Linked DNA regions of Homo sapiens: region 1 is linked to region 2. Evidence: fine-mapped expression QTL. A gene starts in region 2. The other region holds a variant in brackets. All regions are shown on one strand. Distances are between the middles of the regions. Region 1 overlaps VAV2 (vav guanine nucleotide exchange factor 2). Region 2 holds the start of BRD3OS (BRD3 opposite strand).

Region 1 (5,000 bases), 220 kb after region 2:
AAGGCATGGCCCGGCCTAGTGACCAGAGCTGCAGACTCCAAGCTCCTTGCCCAGCTCTTCCACTCTTGTGCATCTGAGTCCTCTCTCCTGCTGGCCTGCTGAGCTCCTAGAGTGCTGAGGATCAGCCTTCACCTCCCCTACCCCACCTGGGCCTCCTGTAGGCACCTGGTCAACCTGGCCCTGGGACATTTCCCTAGCACTTCTGAGTCTTCATTGCCAACTGCCAGTGTTTACTGGGGAGAAAAACCAACCAGGGTGGCCGTGATGCCTCCAGCCGGGAGACCTGGGCTGCCCCCTTGGGCCCAGGCTGGCCTTGCTCCGGCCGGGCCCCCTCCTGCTGCCCCACCCTCTGGTCCTTGGCCAGCGGCCTTTCTGCACGCACATCTGTACACCCTGGCCCAGGTCCTTCCAGTTCCCTCGAAGCCCTGCCCATGCCCTGGCTTCTGAGAATCCTGGCTCTGAGGTCAGCCTCTGCCAGGGCCCTGCTGGCCTCTGTATCCCTCCATGGCTAAATGCTGCTGCAGAAAGCAGGAGGGCTCCTGAGGTCTGTCTCCACCCAGCCTGGGGCCGCCACCCGGGCGTGTTTGCTTGGGCGATGCTCTCTGTGCCACGTGGTGACCAAGGAGCGGTGCAGCAGCTGGGCCCAGAGGATGCCTGCAGAGCGGCTGGCTGCCCTGACCAGGAGCCACTCGGGGAGCAGGAGAGGAGAGGGTGGCCGGGCCTCCAGAGCAGGGTCAGCAGCCTCACACGTCCTCATGTTCACTTCACATCCCGCCTGAGGCTGGAGCTGGAGGACTCTCGTCCACAGCCTGCCCCACCACCGGCACTCCTCGGGGTGGAGAGCATCCCTTTTGATGACAGTTTTGGGGTCATGCTCAGGAGCACAAGCTCAGTGTTTGAGTGCTGGGTGGGGACCATGGCCCTGTCCATCCAGAGAGTCCCCACGGGTGATGGCCCTGCCTCCTGGGTCTCAGCCCCTCACCGCAAGCCACAACCCCAACGCCCACCTCAGGGCAGCCATAGTGCCCAAGTCCACCCTGTGTGTGAGTGGCCACCACAGGACTCTGCCCCCGTCACGCTGGGAGCGTTAGAATCTTTACCCCCGCACCTTCCTGCCCTGCACTCACCTCCAAAGAATGGAGCCCGATGTGGCCAGAACACAGGCTACCCCAGTAAGCATGGAGCACCCCAGTGCCTGCCTCGGAGCTGCCCTGGGACCCTCCCCTGGCAGCTGTGACCTTGAGAGGGTGGGCAACAGCAGCAGGGTGGCAGAGGTGGACTTCTCTCTTCCAGAACTACATGAGCCCCCTGCGGCTGGTGCTGAGCCCGGCGGACATGGCAGCTGTCTTCATTAACCTGGAGGTAAGGGTCCCGGCCCCCATCGCTCATGCCAGGCTCGGGGCCCTAACTCGGCACTGGCCACACATGTCCTGCTGTCCTCAGGGCCTTGGAGAGCTGCACCCCTGTGGCTCCGTGGTGGCTCGTGCTGGCCGGAAGGAGGAGCCCCCACCGCTCTCTCCAGGGTCTTTGGATTTAGGAGCCAGGGTAGCAGGTTTCTGGGCTCCGCTTGTCTGCGGGTGAGGGCAGCACTGACGTGCGTGGCTGGAGGCACGGATGACGCTGAGAATGTAAATGAAGTTTTTGTCAGCGGCCAGAGAGAAACGTGTCCCTCCACCCCTTTGAGCGGACCCCCTCGCCTGCCCTGCGGGTGTCTGAACTCAGTCATAGAAAGGCAGTTCCCCATGCAAAGAGTCACCTAGACGTGGTTAGCAGAGCAGGGCGCTGGCACCAGGCTCCGGCAGCCGTGCATGGGTGGGCTTCCTCCGGGGACATGCTGCTCCTGGCCCTTCCTCCTGGCCTGGCGGCCACAGGTGCCAGCAGCCCGTGCGGTGGCTGTGTCCTGCCTCCCTGGCCGTCTCATTAGCTGCAAGGGTGAGCTCTGGTCACGCTGCCCTGGATGAGGCTGGCTTGGACCCCAGAGCTTCCTATAGTCTGTGCCTCTGACCTAGAGTTCATCTGTCCTTGAGCTGTGGCCAGGATGGAGGAGCACAGACAGAAAGAGGCCTGGGGCGGGGATGGGGGTCCCGGGGTGGGGATGGGGGTCCCGGGGTGTGGCCTGAGCACAGGAGTACTGCGCTGTGCCGCCCCACGCTGTCTGCAGAGCCCGCCCCGAGTCGGCCGCTGCGTGTCTGATGGGCTGGTGCGGGCTGTGGGCGGCTTCCCTCCCACACGTACTGGCTCTTCTGTTGCACCATCGCCATAGAACCTTCTACCTGAATCACACCCTGGCATGCACAGAGATGTGGGGTGCAGGCCCAGCACCCGGGCCCCTCCCCTCCTTGAGGGAACTACAGAACAACAAGGGCACTTTAAGGGCGGCGCTCCCGTCTAGCCTTGGGTGGGCCTGGCCAGGCACTCACGGCTGGTTTTCAACCCAGGACCTGATCAAGGTGCATCACAGCTTCCTGAGGGCCATCGACGTGTCCGTGATGGTGGGGGGCAGCACGCTGGCCAAGGTCTTCCTCGATTTCAAGGAAAGGTGAGTGGCTGCCGGCTCCTGGGGCTCCTTGGCCCCTCCCTGTCTGCGGGAGAGTTTACACAAGTGGAACTCTTGTGTAAGTGGGACTCTTGGGGTGTCCCGAGGCAGGGGCCGCCCCCTCTGGACCCCGTCCTCCCTTGTTGAGGATGCCACCCACCCCGAGCCGCAGCCTGGTTGATGGAGAGGGTGTGGAGCCTCCTGTCCTGTGGGAGCTCGGCAGGGGCAGGATTGGGGTTCTGGATGTTTCTAACTGGCTGTGAGAGGTGTGGCCATCCAAGTGGCTCGGCTGTCCCAGCGGAGATCTCGGGCCCCCACTTCTCCCTTCTGCACCCTTGTGGCCGGTTCTTTAAAGTTAGGATGTGGACAAGGATGAAA[A/G]GAGGTGGCACGTGGAGCTTAAATGATGCCCAGGCTGTCGGAGGCTGGGGAGGTGGCGTTTCTGGGGCTTAGATGACGCCCAGGCTGCCGGAGGCTGGGGAGGTGGCATTTCTGGAGCTTAGACGATGCCCAGGCTGTTGGAGGTTGGGGAGGCGGCGTTTCTGGGGGTTAGACAATGCCCAGGCTGTCGGAGGCTGGGGAGATGGCGTTTCTGGGGGTTAGACAATGCCCAGGCTGTCAGAGGCTGGGGAGATGGCGTTTCCAGCCACGGAAGTCTCGAGAGAGCCCCATCAGGGGACGGTGCCAAGCTCTCTGTCCCTCGGGGATCCTTTGGAGGAGCCCGAAGGGGTCTATGCTAATGCTTCCTGAACTTGGCTGCTCACTAGAGCCACTGGGGAGCTTGTTACAAATACCATGTCCGGGGTCCACTCTTGGAAGGGTCTGGGTCTGCTCTGGGGCCTGGGGAGTTGTAGAAGACCCCACAGGTGCATCTTACCACGCGGCCCTGAGCCTAGGCATTGGGCGCCCGGGTCCATCTCTCCCTCATCTCTAGGAGGGTCCCCTGCATCACCCGCCAGGTGGCCGTCAGCACAGCTCACACCCCTCCCTGTCCAGGCAGCCGGGGACAGGCCCAGGGCTGGATTCTCAGGCACGTTGCCTGGGAAGCCCTGCAGGTGCTTCCCTGTGTGCTCTGTAGCTTCAGGAAAGGCGCTCCCCCCTTCCCTGTGAGGAGGGTCCTGGAGCCTGCTCTCCAGGGGCCATGGCTTGGAGGGTTCCCGGAGACACGAGGGAGCAGGCAGTGCTTGTGGTCCAGTGGCAGAGGGGACCAGGAGAGCTGACGAGGCCCAGCAGGTGTGAGCACACTGGCCAGCCCCAGAGGGTTAAGAGTGGGCAGGGATCGGGGGAGGACAGCTCCCTAACCTGCCCTCAGCAAGGTGTTCCCTTCATCTGTGGGTGAGCTGATAGTGCCCGGCTGGCAGGTCACACTGGCTGTCGCCCCAGTCCTCAGCAGGTGTGGGGTACAGTGGTCCTTTTCAGCGCCTTGTTCATGCTGTCCCTCGGCCAGGAAGGGAGGGAGCCACGGATGAGGCGTGGTTTGCTTCGAGGTCCGTCAAAGGCTGAAGCCCTGGAGGAGGAATGGCTGGCTGTGTGGTAGAGTGACAGGGTGGATAACCTGTCCTCTCCCAGGAGCCTCCCTCCACAGTCAGGCTGCCCGGCGACACCCCTGGCCCTGTCCCACCAGCAGGACCTTGCATGGGTGGTTCCCGCTGAGGAACAGCGGGCATCTCTGCCTTGGAGCGCCACTGCAGTGCGGGCAGCACGTCCAGTCACAGGCCCAGCCCAAGAGCTCTGTGGACGGGCAGCTCCGTCCCTGGCAGCGAGGCGTGTGGCGAGATCCGTCAGTCGGGGTCTGTTTGGGGAAGGGGCTGTCAGCGTTTCATCAGAGCTCATCACCAAATCATCGTGGTTCTGTCCCAGCATCCAGCTTTTTTGCCCCTTTCCTCTCATTTCGGATTCGGCCCCAAGGTCCTGGTTCTTGCTTGCTGGCTGAGTCCTGAAGCTTTTATAGGGTGCCTGCTCTGTATGGCTCCTGAGCTCTGGACTGAGGACACGCAGTGAACAGAGCTACTGGCCTCTCGCTGGGTGGGATGGATGAGAACCAAGACAAGATAGAGAAGCTCCGGGGGGAGCTGCGGCGTTGCTGGAGAGCCCAGGAGACCCGTGAGGGCTGCACAGCGGAGGACGTGTCCCCCTGAGCACAGTCCTGCAGGGGTGGGGCGAGGCGGGTTGGGGAGCAGAAGCTTAGGGGAAGGTGAGAGGCATGAGCCCAGTAGAAAAGGGGCGGTTCTCCAGGGAAGGGCTGGAGGGTCCTGCAGGGGCTTCCAGGCCAAAGGAAGGATTTAGAATTTTTCTTTTATTAAGCGAGGGCACGAGGAAGCTGCTGAAGGGCTTTGTGACAGGGTCCTGGCAGCTCGTCGGGGGTGAAGGGTGGAGTAGCATTCCGGTGTGGCATGATCGGCACTGAGTGGCAGGAGACAGTCACCTCCCTCTTTTTGAGGTTATACTTTCATGAATGCAGCCTTCG
Region 2 (5,505 bases):
TCACAGATGATGATCATTTTGGTAACTCAAAATATAAATGCGGGCTTGGTGCGGTGACCCATGCCTGTAATCCCAGCACTCTGGGAGGCTTGAGCCCAGGACTATAAGACCAGACCAGCCTGGGCAACATAGGGAAACCCTGTCTCTATATACAGTAGTTCGCCTGGAGCCACAGCTACCTGGGAGGCTGAGTTTGGGAGGATCACCTGAGCCCAGGAGATAGAGCCTACAGTGAGCTGTGATTGTGCCACTGTATTCCAGCCTGGGTAACAGAGTGAGACCCCGTCTCAAAAAAGCAAAATACAAAATGTAATGCGACAAAGCTCCTGGTGAGATGCTGCTGCTACTCCGCCATTTATGCTAAAAACAAAAAACTAAAACCTAAAAAACTTGAAAAGGTGGTTTGTAATGGGGATGGGAGGGTTACTCTTGGCCTGGTTTAAACCAAGCATCTAGCAGTGCCCGGGCCTATGCTGTCCCTAGCAGCACCTGGAGAATTCAAATGTCACAACAGCTGACCACGGAGGGGACTCTAGAGGGGAAGTGTCCTGTGCACCAGTCACACCGCGGCTGTGCTGAGGGGTTCGGGGGCCAATTCTGCGCTTCTTGGGTTCTTACACCACAGTTTGATCTTCACGTTCATTATTCAAAATCTTCCAGCAAGGATTGGAAATCAACAAGACAACTGAATGAAACTCAGGTCTGTTTTCCTCAAAGTGTGGTCCTGGGTTCAGGTGCTCACATCGGAATTACATAATTGTGCAAAACTTGGACTGCCCTGTGTCCCTAGAGACCTCGAGCTTGTTTTTGTCTCGGACCAAGATGGCCTCATTTCCATACTGTGAGTACCACATGCTTCGGCTCCTGCTCAGGTACGTCCCAGGTGGCACCGACTCCAACTTCTGCTGTTGCTGCTGCCAGATGAGCAAGGAGGTGTCCCTGTACCGGAGGCGGGCGTAGCCTTCAGACAAGGCCTTCTCTGCCAGGGGGACACGGCCACTCATCCCCTCCCCCGTCCCGCTGGACTCCTGGGAACCCTGCTGTTCTGAGACGGCCCACGCGCACTAAATTAACGGACAGCTTTCCCAGCTTTGGGGCTTAAGGATCCCTCGTTTAACTGAATGGTAGAAATTAGGAATTCCGCCCATTTGCAGGCAACGTCCTCAGGAGGGTTGTGTGGTGAGGAAATGAGGCGGCCTCACCATTCTGAAGACACCTGAGACCCATTCAGGGGACCGCACACAGGTCAGAGCGGCGCCCGGCCACAGCTCTTCCGGGTGCAGCTGTGTGGAATTGACAGGGACGAGGCGTCACACCCTGGGGGGTGATTCTGCCACCATGGCCTGGACCACTGAGCTTGAAGAGATGGATCCAGTGCCCTGAGGAAGGGACATGGTGGCCCCAGACGCAAGCTGGAAGGAGCTCCGGTGGCACGCCCCGCACGCATCTGTCCGGGCCAGCTTTCAGGGCAACGGCTGTTCTGACCCACCCTGGGGATCCAGCCCCAGCGTTTGTTCAGGTCTCGTCTCTCCCCAAAGGTGCTGCTGCAAAGGAACGAACGTGCTGTCAGGAGAGGGGAAGTCAAGCGCCCCGGCAGCGGCGGCAGTCTGCAGCGCAGCATCAAGTCTCTGGGGGTCAGCGGCCTAGATCGAGCTACTTACGTCCCGTGGGGCAGCCTGGGAGCTGGGTGGAGAGTGAGACGGGCGCCCAGTGCCAGCTTTTTCAGTCACTGGGAGGTGCTGGGGAGGCTGCTTGTTGGGGCTTCAGGGTCTCCATCTGTGAAACAGGAGCCAGCGGCGCTTGAAAGGGCGCGGGTTCCCGGAGACGCCGCCAGGCGTCAGCCCCGGGACCGGAAGGGGCCCCCAGGGCCGCCTTGCTGCTCCGAGCATCCAGCTCCCGTGAGGCCCCTGGACCCAAACAAAAACGATGTCAGGAGAAAACAAACAGGGAAGCATCGCAACCCACTCCCGAACGCCTTCCCAGCTGCGCAGCGTCAGGGACCTCCCCTCCTGGGATGCCTGCGCTAGGTCAGCCTCAGCTTCCCGGGCCCCCATCGCGCGTCCCCGCCACCTGCGCGCACCCTGGGGTCCCCGTCGCGTGGCCCGCGGCCCCCATCCCCGCGCCCCAGACCCCGCGCGCTCTGGGTCGCCCCATCCTCCAGCCCCCTATCGTCTGCCCGCATCCCCGGGTCCCCCACGTCGCCCGCCCCAGTCACCGCTCGTCGCGGGCCTCGGAGATGCGGGCAGCGGCGCGACGCACTGCGGGGCTCCCAGGGCGGGGCCGGCGGCCGCTGGGCCGTGTCTCCATGGCAGCGCCGCAGGCCTGGCGAGCCGAGCGCAGAGGCTGGGCAGGCGTGTGCGACGAGCCCAAGCCATCGATCGCTCCGCGAGGAGGGGCTGGGCCCGCCCCGAATAGGAACTGGAAGAGGAGGAGGAGGGGCTGGAGGAGGAGGGGCTGGAGGAGGAGGGGCTGGAGGAGGAGGAGGGAGGAGGAGGAGGAGCTGGGAGAGGAGGGGCTGGGAGAGGAGAAAGGGCTGGATGAGGAGGAGGGGCTGGAGGAGGAGGAGGGGCTGGGAGAGGAGGAGCTGAACGAGAAGGAGGAGCAGAAGGAGGAGTGGAGGAGAAGGAGGAGCAGGAGGAGGAGCTGGGGGAGGAGGAGGAGCTGAGAGAGGAGGAGGAGATGGAGGAGGAGGGGCTGGATGGTGAGGGGCTGGGAAAGGAGGAGGGGCTGGGAGCGGAGGTGGGAGGAGGGGCTGGCAGAGGAGAAGGGGCTGAGGAGGTACTGGAAAAGAAAGAGGAGCAGGAGCTGGAGGAAGACGTGGAGGAGGAGCTGGAGGAGGATGAAGAGAAGGAGTGGGACGCCCACAACCCTGTTAGTAAGACACTGCCGGACTGTATGGTCTTATCATCTTGGTTTTCGTATTTCTGCTTGTGTGGTTACTTTTGCCACTGCTGTTACTGCTTTTATTAGTATTCTTACTCTCAGTAATTGATACAATTATTTTTAATTAATTAAATGTCCGGGCTTACTATCTCAAAAATAGGTCTTGAATTTCTCCATCTCATCCAACCAAGCCAGGCCTCTATACTGCTCATTTGGACTCCTCAACAGCCCCATGAAAGCAAGGTCTATTTCCTTTTCTCACTCCACCTCCAATCATACTCCAATAGCACTCTTTTAGTATCTACCCTTTTCCCCTAATTTTATGGTTTTCTCCAATGCCAATTAAGAAAACTAGCATAATGGAACCTGGTGTGGTGGCTCACCTCTGAGTCCCACCTACTTGGGAGGCTGAGGCAGGAGGATCCCTTGAGCCAGGAGTTCGAGGCTGCAGTGAGCCATAATCATGCCACTGCACTTCAGCTGGGACGAAACAGCAAAACCCCATCTCTAAAAAAAAAGAAAATAAGCATAACAGACATCCAAGGAAGATGCTTAGTGTGAGCACTAAGCCCACAGCTGTGGAACGCACATTCTTTTTTTTTTTTTTTTTGAAAGGGAATCTCACTCTGTCACCCAGGGTGGAGTGTGGTGGCACGATCTCAGCTCACTGCAACCTCCGCCCCCCAGGTTCAAGCGATTCTCCTGCCTCAGCCTCCTGAGTAGCTGGGACTACAGGCGCCGGCAACCACGCCCAGCTAATTTTTGTATTTTTAGTAGAGACAGGGTTTCACCATATTGGCCAGGCTGGTCTCGAACTCCTGACCTTGTGATCCGCCTGCCTCGCACTTTCTTCACAAGTACCTACACAGGACGTTTAGCAAAACTGATCACATGCTGGACCATAAATCAGTTTCAACAAATTTGAAAACGTTTAAATCTTACATGATCTCCCAGTCTTCCGACCTGGGAAAAGACAGCAACCGAAGTTATACTGCTTTCAAGAGACACAAGAACAGGCCTGTATTCAAAGACCCATTTAACACTTTTACCTCTATCTGGCTGGGTGCGGTTTTCACGCCTGTAATCCCAGCACTTTGGGAGGCCTAGGCGGTCACATCACTTGAGGTCAGGAGTTCGAGACCAGCCTAGCCAACATGATGAAACCCTGTCTCTACCAAAAATATAAAAAATTAGCCCAGTGTGGTGGCAGGCGCCTGTAATCCCAGCTACTCAGGAGGCTGAGGCAGGAGAATCTCTTGAACCCAGGAGGCGGAGGTTGCAGTGAGCTGAGATTGCACCATTGCACTCCAGCTTGGGTGACAGAGTGAGACCCCATCTCAAAAAAAAAAAAAAAAAATTGCCTCTAAGCTAATATAATTTGTTCTATGCCTTGAACTAAATAATTTGAATATTTAGTTACCTGTAAGCTTCCTTTTCCTGTCGTTGTCAAAACCAAATAGGACTTATATTTCTGTTCGAAACATTTACTTATGTTTTGTTTTCCAGAGTCAAAAAGCTGTTTTTCCTTTTAAGCTATTTTATAGCTACAACAATTAAGTAAAAAATGAAGATTACCTCTCTTTTTCTACCTGATATCTCCAGAATCTGAAAATGATTTAAAATCCCATTGGCTCCAATCTGATTTGATATCAAACACCCTCCCTCTAGGCCCAGGGACAATTGCAGAAGAGGTAAACGCATGAGATTGTAAGGGCTGGTTTCGAGGGATAAAATTTGTTCAGACCCTCTGAATCAAAGATGGTTCACAAATACCTAAATAGCTGATAGCTCAATACATAAAACTTAGAGATAAGTCAATTTTGTAACCTCACGTTTTGGATTTTGGTTTTTGCCTCTTATGTTGCACAAAAGGTTGTTTTTTGTTGTTGTTGTTGTTTGTTTTATTTTGATTTTTTTGAGATGGAATCTCGCTCTGTCGCCCAGACCGGAGTACAATGGTGCAATCTCAGCTCACTGCAACCTCCGCCTCCCAGGTTCAAGTGATTCTCCTGCCTCAGCCTCCCGAGTAGCTAGGGTTACAGGCATGTGCCACCATGCCTGGCTCATTTTGTATTTTTAGTGGAGACAGGGTTTCACTATGTTGATCAGGCTGGTCTCAAACTCCTGACCTCGTGATCCACCCGCCTCAGACTCCCAAAGTGCTAGGATTACAGGCATAAGCCACCGCACCTGGCTGCACAAAAGGTTTTTAAGGGTGAATGAGTGCCTGCCCATCTCCTTTCCTATCTGTCCTAAAACATTTAATTAGCTGTCTTTCAGTCTTTTGGCTCTAAGTCTCTTGGCCATAGGGATCCCACCAAGGGACAAGATGGACCCAGTGCAGGTAGCACACAGCCCCAGCAACGATATAGGACAAAATAAAAGTTTGGTCATCAATGCCATCTCTGGCAAATCTTGGCCAAAAGAAGGGAATATAAACTAAAAATAAAATCCTAAACTCCTCACTGACTGAACGGATCCCCTCTTGGCCAAGGGGACCTCAGAAAAAACTTAAAACTGAGTTCCCAGCCACGATGGGATAGGAGAGCCCACTCATGTCGTTATAACTCCTCCCTTTGGTGACTTAGAGACAAGGCACTAGCATTTGCGTTAAAATATGTA

What was found. PIP is the estimated chance that this variant, and not a neighbour inherited with it, causes the effect.
Region 1: its variant is fine-mapped to the expression of BRD3OS in ovary (GTEx, PIP above 0.99).

The regions. Positions count from the first base shown.
Region 1 is chr9:133,803,620-133,808,619 of GRCh38, reverse strand. VAV2 (vav guanine nucleotide exchange factor 2) reads left to right here. Exons shown (of 30, transcript NM_001134398.2): 8 at 1,294-1,362; 9 at 2,439-2,539. Among named protein-coding and RNA genes, the nearest start is that of SARDH, 68 kb to the right of the region's middle. RefSeq lists an enhancer at 4,714-5,000. The variant A/G (reference allele first, on the strand shown) is at 2,915.
Region 2 is chr9:134,022,247-134,027,751 of GRCh38, reverse strand. It overlaps BRD3OS (BRD3 opposite strand), which reads right to left and starts at 2,271. Exons shown (of 3, transcript NM_001355256.2): 1 at 2,216-2,271; 2 at 1,662-1,907; 3 at 1-1,544. The coding sequence starts at 1,004. The coding sequence ends at 750. RefSeq lists silencers at 1,978-2,397, 2,708-2,837.